2 separate regions of the Homo sapiens genome follow, and region 2 is linked to region 1. A link means that fine-mapping ties the variant in region 1 to the expression of a gene that starts in the linked region. Tissue or cell type: sun-exposed skin. Region 1 holds a variant in brackets; the other region holds the start of a gene. All regions are shown on one strand. Distances are from middle to middle.

The links. PIP is the estimated chance that this variant, and not a neighbour inherited with it, causes the effect.
Region 2: it holds the start of SLC13A4, and the variant in region 1 is fine-mapped to the expression of SLC13A4 in sun-exposed skin (GTEx, PIP above 0.99). The same link has a PIP of 0.9 or more in unexposed skin.

The regions. Positions count from the first base shown.
Region 1 is chr7:135,702,741-135,710,844 of GRCh38, forward strand. SLC13A4 (solute carrier family 13 member 4) reads right to left here. Exons shown (of 16, transcript NM_001318192.2): 3 at 5,374-5,510; 4 at 3,388-3,560; 5 at 2,856-2,910; 6 at 105-144. It overlaps LOC105375521 (a long non-coding RNA gene), which reads left to right. Exons shown (of 5, transcript XR_928021.3): 4 at 1-3,732; 5 at 4,295-5,856. Among named protein-coding and RNA genes, the nearest start is that of SLC13A4, 21 kb to the right of the region's middle. RefSeq lists an enhancer at 1,361-1,655. The variant A/G (reference allele first, on the strand shown) is at 4,079.
Region 2 is chr7:135,724,273-135,732,376 of GRCh38, forward strand. It overlaps SLC13A4 (solute carrier family 13 member 4), which reads right to left and starts at 3,914. Exons shown (of 16, transcript NM_001318192.2): 1 at 3,126-3,914. The coding sequence starts at 3,224. It overlaps FAM180A (family with sequence similarity 180 member A), which reads right to left. Exons shown (of 4, transcript NM_205855.4): 4 at 5,320-6,009.

The sequences.
Region 1 (8,104 bases):
ATCTGTAGCTGTTGAAAATCTGGTTCTGAATCTTGGGTTTCCATGAAGAAGTGCTGAGGGATTTTCAAGTGATTCCAAAGCACAGAAAAACCCCAAGGCCATACCTCGTTGTGCATCAGAGTGGTGAGGTCTGCGTTGGACCTGCTGGAACCAAGCAGAGGACACAGGAGCCACGTCAGTGAGGCCGACTCTTGGGAGGGGAGGTCCCCCTGCATCAGGCGTTTGGTGTAAGGGACTTAAACTCTCTGGATTCCAGTTTTCTAGTCTCCAGAGAAGACTAATCTCTCCCTTGTCTTCCTTGCCTTCTGAGATGCTGTAAGGATTAGTGGGGCCAGGGGCCTGCTTCCTTCTGAGGGCAGGGGCAGCACTTTCCTTTGATATTAACAATCGTCCTAACAGCAGATGTGGAGTGGATATTAGATACAGAGTGCACATATATGGGCTTTAACCCCCAGACATTGTTAATCCTCATCACAGATCTATGGTCCTGGCATTCATACCTCCATTTACACCAGTACTTAGCACGGGGATGCTAAGTGGCAGAGGAGGGTAGGAGTCCAGGAGTCTGTCTCTCTGGAAAGCCTATGCCCCCTGACCATGTTCTCACTGGCTGACTCTCATGTTCTCACTGGCTGACTCTCATGTTCTCACTGACTGACTCTGGGAAGACCACTATCTAGAAAGGGGAACTTGTGATATGCGTATCGGAGGTGACAGGAGCAGGGAGGGCCTGGATTGTACTCAGGGAAAGTCAAGGGAGAGGGAGAGGGTGGCGGAGGGGGAGGACTTCTGATCAGCAAGTACACCTCAGGGGGTGAGTCTCTCCCACCCCTGCTGGTCCCCAACCTTTGCCTTGAGGACAGAAGAAGATGAGAACTTAGCCATCAGTGTAACTGACACACTGAGTGATCAGTGAATGTTTCCAGTTTGTCTTAGTTGCGAGGACAGTGGGAGCCACCAGCTCAGCCACTGTGAAGACAGAGAGCGTATTGGGCACACACATGCGGGATGTGGGTCCTGCGGCCATGGTCCCTCTTCAGGCTCTGTCAGGGAAGGATAAGAAGCTGACAGGCGTGCAGAGGGAAGTGTTCTTTGGAGTGAGTTCTTAGCCTGGGAGGAGAATGTGCTGTGATGTTTCCCTTCCCTTCTTCCCAAACTGGGTGAGGAGGGTAGGCGAGGATCCTCAGGTAGCATGGGAGGTGGTGGCCGCAAGAGTGCTGTCTGCACACCCAGCAAATGACCCAGTTCCCACCAGCACAAAAGATGCTTAGAGTTCTAGGGACAACTCAGGCTTTTCTTTTGGAGTTTGGGGATACATTTTTGTGTGGAAAAGAGCAAAGGCAAGAAGCCAGTAGGGTGATGCCAGAGAGGCCACAGGGAGGAGAAAAGGCCACAGTGAGGATGGCCTTTTCCTGGGTCACCTGGGACAGGCCTGCCCAGAGGCAGAGGCAGCCCCAATACAGGGGTTGTGGGGGAGTTAACCACCAGAGCACAGGCCCTGGAGGGTGGCGTGAGTGTTAATCCCAGAGCAAGGCCCTGCCATCAGGCCTGAGGCCCTGCAGAGGGCGCCATAATGGGATGCTCCAAAGACCCTGAAGGCAGTTGCCCCACAGATGAAAGAGCCAGGGACTGAAATCTCAGAGAGGGCACCAACCCCAGACCTCAATAGCCCCCATCCAGACCCTTCTCACCCATTTATCTTTCCTGTACCCTAGAGCTGCTGTCCTAAGCCCAGAAAAGTCAGAAGCAGCAGAGTGAGGGTGCGGTTAGGGGAGGAGGAGAAGAGGGAGGTGGAGGAAGACAGAAAGAAGCTCAACTCCCTCCCCCGACTTACTTTCACCTTCTTTCTTCTGCAGGCCTAGGGTGAGGGGTGGGTGGGTATGGGAGAAGCTTTGGCTGAGAAGTTGAAGTTTTGATTTGAATTTGGACTAGTCTCCCAAATGTCTGAACATGAGATTGTTATAATACCTGAAAGGAACCAGGAGAGCTACGGGATTTGCCTGGGATATCATCAAGGGTGATGTCATCAAGAAATCCAATATGCTATGATTGAAGATAGTGGTGGAGAAAAATAAAGCGATTTCCTGATGGCACCCTTCCACGTCTGTCCCACTGTGAACGCTGATTTCACCCAATGTGCGTTCTCCTTTTTTACAACAAGGGCAAATGACAGAGCTGAGCTGTATTACAAATCCAGCTTTTAAATGTGGACTATTCATTGTGGCATGCCTGTGGGCCACATTTTGAAATAGAATCTCCAAATGGAATCAGCTGTTAATAGAGCTTCCTCCAGGAATGTCTGAGGCTGCTTCTCCTTTTCCAGCTCTGCTTCCCATCATCACAAGGCCCTCTCACCTCCTGTCCCCTCATCCCCTACCTGTCACCTAAGTTTTCTTTGCCATATCTAACAAGACCAAATCTACCAAGACCTTATCTAATATCTAGAAAATATTTCATGATTCTCCAAGAATCTGCAGTGGCATCGAGATGTGAACGGTTTTCCGTTAACAAATTAAACATACTATTTTCCTAAAAGGGACATGAATTTAGAAGAGATTCTGCATGGTGGCTGTGTGGACAGTTCATATATCCACTGAGATTCAGTGTGGCCTTTTTATTTCTTCCTCATCACTGCAACACTGTGGTTAAGGGAGTGACTCTCCAGGTCCTGACAGGTCACTCCTAGGTATGGAGAGGAAATGGGGGAGGTTGGGCGGGGTGGGGGGGTGGTGTGGCAAGGTGGTGAGCTTGGGTGGTACATCTCAAAGAGCTGTTTATGGGTCTAGGTCCCCTCTTTTCTGACCTCCCCTATGGACTCTGAGAGGCGCTGTCTGGGAGAGGGCAGTCATACTCACTCTTCATTGACAAAGATGAGTTCCAGAGAAGGTTGGCTGTTCTTTACATCCAGACCTATGAGTAGCAAAGAAAAGCAGTATGTGAGAGGTGGAGGCTGGGGCTGACCCTGTGGGTTGGAGCATAGCTCAAGGGCTTAGGGCGGAGGTGGGCCATATGGAGTGGGTGACATTTCTCCTTCCCTTTGCTCTGTAAATAGAATGGGGCTCATGGATGCAGACTGGCCCCAGGGTTTTGCAGTGATCCTTGAGCATTTGGGGGCAAAGAGCAGTGTGTACCCTTGAGCATTTGGGGGAAAAGAGCCCAGAAGTGAAGGAGGAAGGAAGAGCCAGAACAGGGAGTTCAGGGAAGCTTCAGAGTCCAAGAGCTGGGATGGGAAAGAGGAGAGAGGGAAGAGGAAGGGGAATGTGGGGGCATGGCTGAGGGGGTCCTGGGGTGGGCACAAAGTTGGGCAGTCTCCCTAGAGGAGCCAGGCAGGAGGACCCCAGGGGAGGTTGGAGGAGCAAAGGAGAGATGAACTCCAGCAAACTGTACTGATGGGTTCGGCCTCTTCGGTGTTGGAGTTGCCCGCCACGAGCTGCTCGTCCTCAGCACTGACCAGCTCCTGCAGCACGGCCTCCACGATGGGCATCACCATGGCGGTGGTGGAGGTGTTGGACAGCCACATGGACAGCAACGTGGTACAGCACATGAAGCAGAGCAGCAGCCTGGAAGGCAGGGAGGGTTGGGGCAGAGCGTCCACGGAACACACATCCCTGCGGCTCCACAGTGGGCCTCCTACCAACCTGCTGGGGCTGGTCTAGACAGCTGTGGCTGGAAAGGCAGGCATTTGTCCTGCAGGGTGCCATTCAGCTCTGTACTCCCAATGCTTGGCACAGCGTAAGTATTAAAGCAATACTTCTTGAATGAATGAATCACACTTCATGGACTAGCGGCCTTAGCCAGAAAAAAGTCCTTAGTGAAGCAAAGAATAGCTCTGGTAGTAGGGCCACAGGGTGTAGACTTACCATTGTTTTTCTGTCTCCACGGACATTGGCTGGAGCTTGGCGGTGATGTGTGTTTGTGTGTGGAAGGCAATACTTTGTTTGCCCTCGCAGCCAGCAATTCTGTGAGCGCCACGGCACTCCTTGCTTTGCCGCCAAGTCACCATAGATATCAGTGACCCAATAGAGATGAATGTTTGGAGCTCACAGTTCCACCCACTACCTGTCAACATGCTGAAGGC[A/G]TAGCCCCCAAAGTCACAGAAGTGTCCCGTGTCACTGTGTGCACTTTTCCAGCTGACATCTTAAAGCGTCAACACTTGGAGAAAAACACTAACAAGGTTAACCCTCTAATTATTTCTCTTTGGCTTTGAGAACGTTGTGCAATGTGTGCCTGTACAGACATGTCCTAGTTTCCATAAGATAAGCCAACATAAAGACTACTGTGTTTATTATTTTAGGTGGAATCACTGACTTTGCACAACTTGGGGACAGTACGTTTATCATGTGGACTCCATTGGCTGACAGCGACTTGACTTTGCCAATTCTGTACCTACACGGGTAACTGCCTCTGGGGGTGGCAACTTGCTGACTGATGTAAATAGGGAGGAGTGGAAATGTGAGAGGATAAAAATTCTTGCAGATAGTACACAGAGATTTTAAAGAGCCACAGAGTCTCCATATGATGTGACGAAATGCCACTGTGTGCCTGGGAGGTTGAGTGTAGGGGCAAGATTATTACTGAGTTAGGGGGTGGATTAAGCTGTAGTTATCAGACCTGTTTGACAATCTGGGAGACAGGAACATGCTTTTAAGCATAACCTATAGTCATCTAAATGACTCATACTGAGAACCAATACTATATTATTTATTTATACTCGTGTTGACTCCCATAGGAGTCAGGGCAGCTTACATAAAATACAGCAAGAAAGTTGTAAACTAGAAGGAGGTGAGCAGGATATTCCAAAAGGGAAGGTACAGGCAGGGGAATCCAAATGGAACATTGCTGAAGCTAACACAAAACTCAACCTTGACACCGTAACACATTCCCCGAGGGTGGGACTCCCTCCCGCATCACAGTCAAATGCAGTGTCTCTAACTGGGTCTGTGGTCTGAACTGATGACAAAAACTCAGGGTGGATGGGAGGAAACATTCCCGTCTCCTTCAGTGACAAAGGAGAAGACAGCCACTTCCGGTCCAGCCTGTTCCCTGATACACAGGAAACAGGTTGGGAAACAATTTCTCTTGGTCCATCCTGTTTTACCTGATGGGCCCCTATATGTTGTAAGCTGCTGCCCTTGCAGCCTAGGTCAATGGGTAAATTCTTTGGATAATGATAGCAAGGTCACAGGTTTAAATCTCTACTCCATGATCACAGGCCCTCTCCCTGGACGGGTCCTATGGCTCTGGTGTCAGCCCGACCCTTTGGTAAAAAAACAGCTGAAGTGGACATCCCGCAGTGACCTGAGACCACTGTCCTGGTGGCACACTGGGAGCTAGAAGGATGCCCTATGTCCTGGCATCCCAAATAAGACTTACATGCCCGGCTTGGCTCCGGCCATCAAGACCATGCGCAGAGCAATGCGCTTATGCAGGTTCCACTTCTCCACGGCAGCCGCCACGCAGATGACCCCCACCAGCAGCAGCGTGGTGTTCTTGAAGTACTCCGCCGCCACCTGTAGGGAGGCCAGGCATGTCAGTCACCCTCCCGGACCAAAGACCCAGGGCCCAGCACCAGCTGGGAGAATGGGCCATACCCAATAAAACCTGTTCTCAATCAAAGAGGCTGGCGAAGGGGAGGCAGGGGGGTGAGGATTATTGAAATAGCCGCCCATCCTAGAGTCACATCTACTGAGCGTTCATTGTGGGCAGGCACTGTGCTAAGTACTTGACAGATTATTTCATTCAATCTGGCCCATAACTCTATAGGATAGATGTTCTTCTCCACTTTGGAAAACATAAAACCACTGTATTTAAATATGATGTGAATATGATTTTAAAGAATAAACACATATAATTTTATATTGATCTTTTAAAATAACCCTAGGTTTCTCCCCAAACCTAATTTTTAATGTTTTTAGAAAATATTAGAAAATTATTTTCATTTCATTTCTATTAGAAAATTAATACATACTCAGTATGGAAAACTTCAAAATATAAAAAAAGTTAAAGACAAAATTACCCTTAATCATGCTACTGTAAATACTTATAGTTTCTTCCATTTTTCCTATACCTATATAGATAAATGCATTTATACAGTATGTATACTTTTATATCTTGCCTTTTTTTCATTTAACATCATATCCTCATTATTGTTTTTCTTTGAGACAGAGTCTTGCTCAATTTTTTTTTTTTTTTTTTTTTTTTTTTTGTGAGATGGAGTCTCGCTCTGTCGCCCAGGCTGGAGTGCAGTGGTGCGATCTCGGCTCACTGCAAACTCCGCTTCCTGGGTTCACGCCATTCTCCTGCCTCAGCCTCCCGAGTAGCTGGGACCACAGGTGCCTGCCACCATGCCTGGCTAATTTTTTTTGTATTTTTAGTAGAGATGGGGTTTCACTGTGTTAGCCAGGATGGTCTCAATCTCCTGACCTCGTGATCCTCCTACCTCGGCCTCCCAAATTGCGGGGATCAGAAGCATGAGCCAGCGCACCCGGCCTTAATTTTAAAAATTTAAATAATTCCCAATAATTCTCAAGTTCCAATGAATTCCAAAAATGAAAATAGTACAAGGAATACCTATACACTCTTTTTTTTTTTCCCTGAACCATTTGAGGGTAAGTTACACACATTTTGGCTGGTCCTTTACCCCTAAATACTTCAGTGTATATTTTCCTTTCTTTCTTTTTTTTTTAAAAAAAAATTTGAGACAGGGTCTCACTCTGTCACCCAGGCTGGAGTGCAGTGGCATGATCACAGCTCACTGCAGCCTCAACCTCCCAGGCTCAGGGTATATTTTCTACGAGTAGGGATTTTCTCTTCCTTAGTGGCCACAGTACCAGTTATAAACTCCTTTCTACTTTTTAATTTAATGATGGGGAAGTTGAGACATAGGGCAGTTAAAAAGATGTTTCGCATGTTTGAGGTTCATGGACCAAATCTTTGTTGATTCTCTCACTTGGAACATTCTCTCTTTCCATCTCTGCCTGTACATTCCAATCAGACTTTGAAGCCCAGTTCAGGCCTGGCATCCTCTAGAAAAAACCTTTCTTGTGGCCCTAGCCTCTGATTCCAGAATATTCCTCCTGGGCACCATTAATTCCGCACACCACAGAGCACTTGGAGCAATGCTTGAATGATTGCTTCCTGATTGTACTGTTGTTTGTTTATTTTTGTATGTGTACTTCTCTTGTCTCTCAACTAAATTTTTCGGCTGTGAATGGTTCCCTTCTATATATCTTAACACCTAGTAGAATAATATGCAAAAGTAGATGCTCAATAAATATTTGTCACATACATGAGAATTGCTTCCAACTGGAGGAACCATACAGAAATTGAGAGGAAAAGCTATAGAAAAGTCTAACTTCTAATTGAAAAACCCTCTTAAAGTGAGAAAACAAGAACATTTTTAACTGCAGCAAAAATAAAAATTCAACAGGAAAGGAAATACATAGTAAAATACATAGCATTTGAAATAATATGTACATGATCATACTAATTTTGATTATTGAATTAACAAAAATTGTGATTGAGCATATTGGGAGGATGGTAGAAGGCGAAGTGGGGGATGTAAAAGAAAAAATCTTCCCGGGAGGCAGAGCTTGCAGTAAGCCGAGATCGCGCCACTGCACTCCAGCCTGGGCGACAGAGCGAGACTACGTCTCAAAAAAGAAAACAAAAAACAAAAAGAAAAAATCTTCATCTGCTATAACAAGAAGTCAACTGATAGCCGCTTAAAGTGAGAACTCAAGGACTAATATAAGAATATCATATGGGAATGGAGCTTAATGACAGAAGAAGCTGTTAACAAAGTTACAAGTTATTGACTCTGAGGGTGGGGTGGGACTTGGTAGGGGGGGAAGTGGGAGGGATGAGGAAAGAGACTGCTGACTTTTCATTATAAGCGTTCAGTATTAAAGTATTTGATTTTTAAACTTTGTGCACGAAACACTTTGATAACATCAAAACCAAAATAAAGGCAGGCTGCTCCATCTCTCCTTTCTCTCTTTTGCCCTATGGACATTTCATTGCATCTGGTTGATGAGGGTTGTGTAGGAGAAGGGACATCTGCCCTCACTGTGACCATTTCCTGGGGGGAAAAGCCCCTGCTTCT
Region 2 (8,104 bases), 22 kb after region 1:
TCAGTTGAGGTCAGGAGTTCGAGACCAGCCTGGCCAACATGGCGAAACCCTGTCTCTATTAAAAATACAAAAAATTCATCCAGGTGTGGTGGCACATGCCTGTAATCCTAGCTGCTCTGGAGGCTGAGGCAGGAGAATCCCTTGAACCCGGGAGGCAGAGGTTGCAGTGAGCCAAGGTTGTGCCACTGCACTCCAGAGCCTGAGTGACAGAGTGAGACTCTGTCTCAGAAAAAAAAAAAAAAAAAAAAAAGAAGAAAGGAGAGAGAGAGAAAGAAAGAGGACTTTCCCTCTGCCAGGTGCCTTTAGTTTTCAATTAGGAGAATGTGGGTAAAATAAAGCAAACATTTTGGTTGTAAATATTGTTAGACATGCGACTAGGTTACTGGAAGAAGTAAGTCATCAGGCCACCTTCACCCAGCTGTATTAAGGACAGGATTAATTACTATCATTTTTTACCTGGATTTTCCTTAGAGTAGAAGAATGGACAAGAGACACCTTTAGAGAGTCTTTCCATACAGTTTCCACTTATTTCACCCATGGAATCTCCATAAACTTCATTTTTCCCCTTCTAAAGCTTCCCAAAATTCAGGAGGTAAGCTTGTATTCAGACAACCAAAAATACTGCAAAGTTTGCTTACAAGGAGTCCGATGTCCCCAACGCCTATCCCATGTCTAGCAGGTGGTTCAATTCACGTGGGCTGAACTGCACTGGACTTCTCTGCTGGCTGTCAGGTCTCGCTCATCTTCTGGAGAGAATATTCTGCAACCCCCAGGCTCTTTAACAACACCACTGGTTCCTTATAATAGCAGGTATGTGGGGGTTGGGCATTGGTGAGTGTTCAGACAATATCTTCAAGGGACATGCTATCTACTATTTTTTGGCTCCCGTTTACAAGTAAAGGAAAGAGTTCGAAAGTGGCATTTCCCCATGTAGGACGTTTCCTAGTCAGCTACTCACTTAGGCGTGGAACTGCTCGTTTTCCACGCAGTTTGACCACCCCAGTGATATCCCACTCCAACTTCACGGGAAGGAGGTTGAAGTCTGTTATCTGTTATCATCAATGACTGGGGGCGCCTTTTAAAAAATTTAGCTTGGGCAGTTGAGATGCAACTTTTATCCCACTGGGGGCACTGAGGAAGGGCTTAGTTATGGATGCTGTCTCTTGTACCCTCTTCTTCTATAACATGATAAACAGTGTCTGGACCTCTAGTTTTAGAGAGTTGGGCAAGAAAAAGGGGGAAGGTCATTTTGACTCCTCCTAAAATGTAGCTGAGGCTTGTCGCTTAGAACCATCAAAACTGCAGGCCAGGAGCTCCTGCCCAGGTACTCCATCACTGCTCTCAACTCCAGTCCAGAGCAAGAAAATCCATTTGGAATTTTAAGGGTTAAATATCAGACTCTAAAAGTTTGATGCAGGCCAGGCACGGTGGCTCACACCTGTAATCTCAACACTTTGGGAGGATCACGTCAGACCATGAGTTTGAGACCAGCCTGGGCAACATAGTGAAACCCCCATTTCTACAAAAAAAATTTTTTTAAAAATTAGCTGCATGTGGTGGTACTTGCTTGCCTGTAGTCCCAGCTACTCCAGAGGCTGAGGCACGAGGATTGCTTAACCCCAGGAGCTCAAGGCTGCAGTGAGCTACGATTGTGCCACCGCACTCCGGACTGGGTGACAGAGTGAGACTCTGCGTCTACAAAAAAAAGTTTGATGAAAGGGGTGACGGATGGATGAAACTCTACCTGCTGGGCACCTAGTCTGTGCCTTCTGTGGGCAGTGGCCAAGGTCCCCAAAGATGGGGCTGCCTCAACCAGGAGATATGAGAGGTTCCTGATACTGCTTGGGAGAGGAGGCTAGTATGTCTCTCGGTAACAGTCCCTTATAGCAACCTACATGGAGAAAAAACAAAAACAAGAAAAGCCACAAAAAGAAAAAAAATCAGGCCCATTTGGACAAAGCAGAAAATTGACTAGGGTACAGTCCAGGAAGAATGTCAGCAGCAATCACTGTCTGCTAATCCCAGCCCAGTTTTAATCAGCGTCTCCCTGGCACTCTGGAGTATTTATTCTATGAAAGATTTAAGCCAGTTTGTTTTTAAGAAGAACCATCCTAATCCCCTCTGTTTAACTGTTTAACTTAATCTTGGTTACCAAGTTACTTAAGGAGCAGAGTGGAAGAATTGCTCCCCCTCCTACAAACGTGATTAACCTGTTTTAGCTTATTTTTCCTAAAGTCTCCAGGGCAGTGCCAGCTGGGGGAAGGGGACAAGCCACAGACAGGAGGAAGAGAACAGCGGAGGGAAGGGAAGGGAAGCAGGTGACCACCAGGAGGGTGTGACAGGCAAGCTGGATGCTGAGCCAGAGCTGAGGTTCCTCTGTTCTCACAAACCAGGTGAAGAATGAGGTCACGGGCTAGAGTTTGGGGGCTCTTATCTCTTTTTTATCGTGTCACTTTTTGTCTGTCCTTCAAGAGGACAGAGAAGAAAACACAGAAGACACAAATAATTCAAGGCCACGTGCATGGGAGCAGGGCAGCCTGCTAAGTTCTGCTTTCATTCCTTCCCTAAACATTCATTCCCTGAAGTTGATAGGCGCCTTCGGGATTAGAGCTTCAACTGTGGTCATCGAAGCCCACCAGGACACGACCACAGACCACGGATTGGCTCCACGGTTCTCTTCCTCCCCCAACCTTCTCCTCAGTGCCACTATTGGGAGCTCTTTCTGTGTCTCCAGGGGCTCTCAGATAACCAGGGTCCCAGGTGAACTCCCGACAAACACAGGTGCACCATGTCGTTTGCATGGGTGTCGCTGGCCCCCGCTGCTGGGGCAGGCTGGCCTGCTGCTTGGTGCAACACCCATCAGTCACTTCTGCCAAGGCCCCTACTCTGTCCTGACCCCGGTGGGGGCCATGGGGTTGGGGGAATGGGACTGGGATAGGAGATGAACATGACAGCTTTTAGGAAGAAGATATCTTGGTTTCCTCTGGAAAAATCCTTCCATTTCTTTAAACCCACCACAAGCCACTTTGAGGGACTGCCTGAGCGCCCCATGTTCCCCTACCGACCTCCCCTCTTTGCCCTCCCACTGACTCCCAGACCCCCGGTGGGCGCAGGTCGGTACTCACGCTGCTGGGGTGGAGGACGGGCAGAGGCAGCAGCAGGAGCGGGACGCAGACGACCAGCAGCAGCTTCCGGACTCGGAGCAGGCCCTGCAGCAGGCCCATCGCGCCTCTGTCCTCTCCAGCTCGTCCTTGGACCCCGCTCTGCCGGCGAAAGGCTTCCTGCCTGGGCACTGCTCTCTATCCAGAAAGACTTCTTAAACCTTTCTTGGCTTCCGAGAGTCCTCCTTCGTCTTGGGGGCAGAACGGGAGGGCAGTTATACCCTCGCTGTTTCTACAAGAGGCTGGGCTCCTGGCCTCCTGCTTTAGGTGGGATTGATGAGCATCGTTTTGTGACCAGCAAAAAGGAACTGGGAAAGGATGATAAACGGGGGCATAGTGGGCCTCCTCTCGGCTTGATTAGTAATAGAGTAACTTCATTCTAGGTGTCAGCAGAAACCCCCTTAATCCTTTAAGCCACACCTTTGCTGCTGCTGCTCGGCCTTGAAGAAATCATTTAAAAGCTTAAAAACATTAAAAACGCTCAGAGCACATTGTGCTCTCCATCAGTTTTCCTCCCTCGGATGACCTATTTTGGGGAGTACCTGTTTCATCTCCCACCTGGGCTCGCTGTTGGTAAGACTCTAGTAGCCCCTTTCCTTAAAACAAGCACCTGAGCTTGTCAGAGTTGCATGCGGACTTCAGGTGGGGCTGCTGGTCGCTCCCAGGACGTGGTACCTTAACTCTGTTCACATGTCTTTCCCTCAAATTGGTTCCCTACTTATAATTTGCCTTGAGCCTGGGCCTGCAAAGCAGAAAAGAAAAGTCCCCAAGACATTCCTTTTTATCAAAGGACAAAACTTGCTGGAGGCCCACCTTTAACTTTCATCCACCAATGGGAAGCCGGGACAGAGACAGTAGCTCCGCCCACTTCTCAAAGCCAATCAGCAAATTGAAAAGAATGAGTCAATTTCTCTCCCCGCGGCCGCTCTTGATTGGTCACAGCGGGGGCCTGCTGATTCCGCAGAACCTAGGCAGCCTGCTAAGCTTATTTTTCAGTTTCTCAAACTTCCTAGGGCTGGAGTGATGACCATCATCGTAAACATAATCTCACGTACCCAAGCACAGCTTTATTGTTTCGGATCATAGGACACAGAGCTTTCGCTGGGAGGGCCACCTGCTGATCTAGACCTTGGGAAGGGAATGTGCCTGGTGGCAGGGAGAAAATGCAACATTACTTCTGGAGAATTTGCCTCAGAGTGTACAAAGTTAAGCCTTTCAGACCTCCCTGCTGGCAAAGATCGTTTGCCTCAGCACCGAGGGGGGAATATAAAGGGTCTAGGCCAGCAGAGGGTATGAGCTCGTGAGAAAGACCCCAGATCTTTTGGGAAGTATAGCTGCCTCCCTGGCAAAGTCTAGATGCCAGTCTCATGCCCAGATGTCAGTGGTCTCTCTGGCTAAAGTAGGTGCTCAAATGCTTCTCTCTGGGGCTCTCCAAAAAGGAAACCGAAGACCTTCTTTGGCTGGTACGAAAGGAGGAGGTGGGAGGGCAGGGAAGAAGTTGACAAGTTCAGGGACAAGGTCTTAGCTGCAGTTGAACTCTGGAATTTCTCCTGTTTACAGATTGGAAGAAGTTGTTAGCTTCTTTTCTCAGAACGGACATGTGGATTTGGGGCAAGGAAGAAAAGCAAAAGCAAAAGCCCAAACATTCTGTAAGTAGTGGTTCTTGGCAACATTACCTTACCTTGATCTGGGAGATGCTGAGCAGAGTCAAAGGGTTATAAAACCCATGTTGTCTTGAATTCACAGAACACAGGAATGGCGTTCGAAGATCTGCAACTATACTACTTGGAAATGATCCCCAGGCTAAAGTGACCAGGGAAGTGACCCAAAAAACAAATTCTTCTTGACTTTTAAGGCAGGTGCAACTGTGGACAGCTGAGGTCCCCTTTGAAATTATCTTGCCATCGTAGGATGGGCTAGGATGACTCAACTCTTTAAATGCATGTTAAAGACTGGCTACTGTATTTACTACATTCTGGCCTCATTTTTTTTTGGTTATGATTTTGAAACTCAGAATGAACAATACCACGTGTGTGATGTTTTGGTCGCAAACATTAAAGACAGCGAATAATTATAAGCAGCTGTGGAAGTCAACATCCACTGTTAAACCCATGAACCATTCCAAATTCCTCGGTGAGATACTCTGAGATAACAAAGATTCCAGTGAGCAACTCAATCATGACATCTTTATTATACCATAGATGAATATTTGTTAAATAAAAATAGGTACAGCAAGTGTACAATAAGACCAGTAGTTCTCCTTCAGAACTCTACCCATTTTTCAGAGGAAGGAAACACTTTTCCAGAATACAATGCTCAAGAAATGTAAGCCAGATCCCGCTTGTATGAGGTATCTTAAGTAGTCAGACTCTCAAAAACAGAAAGCAGAATAATGGTGCCAAGAGCTGGGGCAGGCAGGGGGAAGGGGAAAAGAGGAGTTGTTCGGTGGGTATAGAACTTCAGAATTACAAGATGAGAAAGTTCCGGGGGTCTGTTTCACAACATGCATGGAGTTAACACTGCTGTACCATATGCTTAAAAATGGTTAAGATGGTACATTTTACCTGATGTGTTTTTTACCACAATAAAAAAAATAAGATTGAAATGGATTAGGAAAGTAAGGGGTGTTGTAAAAAGTCATTTAACAAGCATTTGATTTTAGACCATTGGACCTGCAGAAATACTTTGATTTGTTAGATTCAAGGTGAGGTGACAGAGCAATGAAGTCTGCAGCAGTTAAATGTCTGTTGATGTCTCTTGAGTGACATTGGAGATAGCTGTGAGGATGCCAACGATGGAGGAAACTTAGAAAGTTTTTAGATCCTGGGCCAGGCACGGTGGCTCACGCCTGTAATCCTAGCATTTTGGGAGGCTGAGGCAGGTGGACCACTTGAGGTCAGGAGTTTGAGACCAGCCTGGCCAACATGGTGAAACCCCATCTCTGCTAAAAATACAAAAAAATTAGCAGGGCATGGTGACGTGTGCCTGTGGTCCCAGCTACTTGGGAGGCTGAGGTGGGAGAATCGTTTGAACACTGTAGGCGGAGGTGCCACTGCACTCCAGCCTGGGTGACAGAGCGAGACTGTCCCAAAAACAAACAAACAAAAACAAAACAAAAAAACCCACAAAGTTTTTAGATCCTAAAATTTGTCAGCAGAAATGGTTACATAAGTCATGGGCAAGTTTCCACCACAAACATCACACTCCCATATTATTCTAATAGTAATTATAACCAAATGTGACCCCTTCGTGACTGTAGTTGTATAGAGTGTGGCACTAATGAGGCAAAATAGGAGACCCTGTTTGTCTGTCTAGTCTACATTTCTACTACTCCTTGGGCAAAGAATAGGGTTTTTTGGCTGCTGGTGGTGATCATAATATTTGATTCTGCATGTCAGTGAAATCATTGTCATAAAACTCTCTGTGGGTAAACAATGATCTGCATTCAGATTAAAATAGTTTTTAAGACTCTAGTTACTGAAAATGAGTCTTCATTTGTCTTTAAAAAGGTCATGTCCTTCTTTTTTCTATTTTTTTTTCAGTCATTGATTGCCACAAAAATTCAAGCCCCAATTTGTGTTTAATTTTTTTGTTGCTGGGTGAATGTTCCTGGGAACCATCTTCCCATTCATGGATTTCTTACTACTGGGAGCAGCCATCTACATAACATGGTGGTCAGGGACTACAAGGGTGGGCCTTTCCATCTGATGATTCTGAGTACAAGAAAGCTTTCAGATCCATTGTCAAGGGAGTGGAGCCTCGGGGCGGGATACAAGACTGACTATCAGGGTATTGCACAGTGTCTAGGGACTGAGGCCATTGCTAATCCACTCCCCATCTGACATCTAGGAAAAGTACAAACTGTGAAGATAGGCTACCATGTTTATCTGCCTCTGGCCGATCCCAACGCTGTCTGTACACTGACTTGTGTTTTACTTAGACAATGATACCCAGAGAAGACTGACAGACAGTGAGTGTTAGAGTGTGGGTCAGCAGAGATAGAGCAAAAGTCAAGCAGAAGAGTCTTGGAGATGCATCAAAAAACAGATACAGAGATATTTGGAATTGGGCCCAAATATACAGCAGCAGAGATACCAACTAAAATAAAAGAAAGAAAGACAGAGACAAGCAGAGTGACCATGTCAGAGAGAATATGTACATTTAGAAAAAGAAAGATTGAACAAAAAAAGCATATATCAGAATCTGCATTTGGAGGAGGTAAAAGAGCAGAATGGTCAGGGAATGAGAAAGAGAAACTGAGACTTACTAATCTTCTGAGCCTGAGAATATCAGGATGCAAAGCTGTGTTTTTCTCTGATGATGAATACCTTCTTCCAGTGTCCTAGTATTTCTCCAAAAAGATCATGCGGCTAGCACTGCTATGCAAAGCTTATTTGCTCAAAGATTTTGAAGGAGTCCAGACCTCATCATTATCAAATGACAACTGTTAAATACCCATTTCAGAATCAAATTTAGCCCAATAAATCCTCACTCATTCAAAGATCAGACTTGTTGCAGCTTTTGCTTGCTGAGCTCAGCTGTAAACTTAGGAGAAGACAGAAAGATCTCTGAGCTAATGAGGAATCCTTATTAGGACCCAGACGCTCGACCCCTAGCAGAGGACTTCATCTATTAACTCTTATTTAACATAGAATTATAACAAACCTGGCTATCGTAGTTTGTAGGCAATGGCCAGCTAAGAAAGAACAGACTGTGAAGGGCAAGTTACATTGGTAACAAAGAAAAATATGCTCTAATAGCCTGACAGTGAGGGAGGCAGCAGGGAAACTCAGAACTGAACACAGAATGAGCAGTCTGGGACCTCTCAGGGTTGGTACAAACAGTTGAGCTGACTTCTTAGATCCAGGTGCTCTCCTTGTGGCATCTCACAGTTAAAGGATTGTAGGAACTTCATAGGTAGAAGTCTTAGAGATTATCTTATC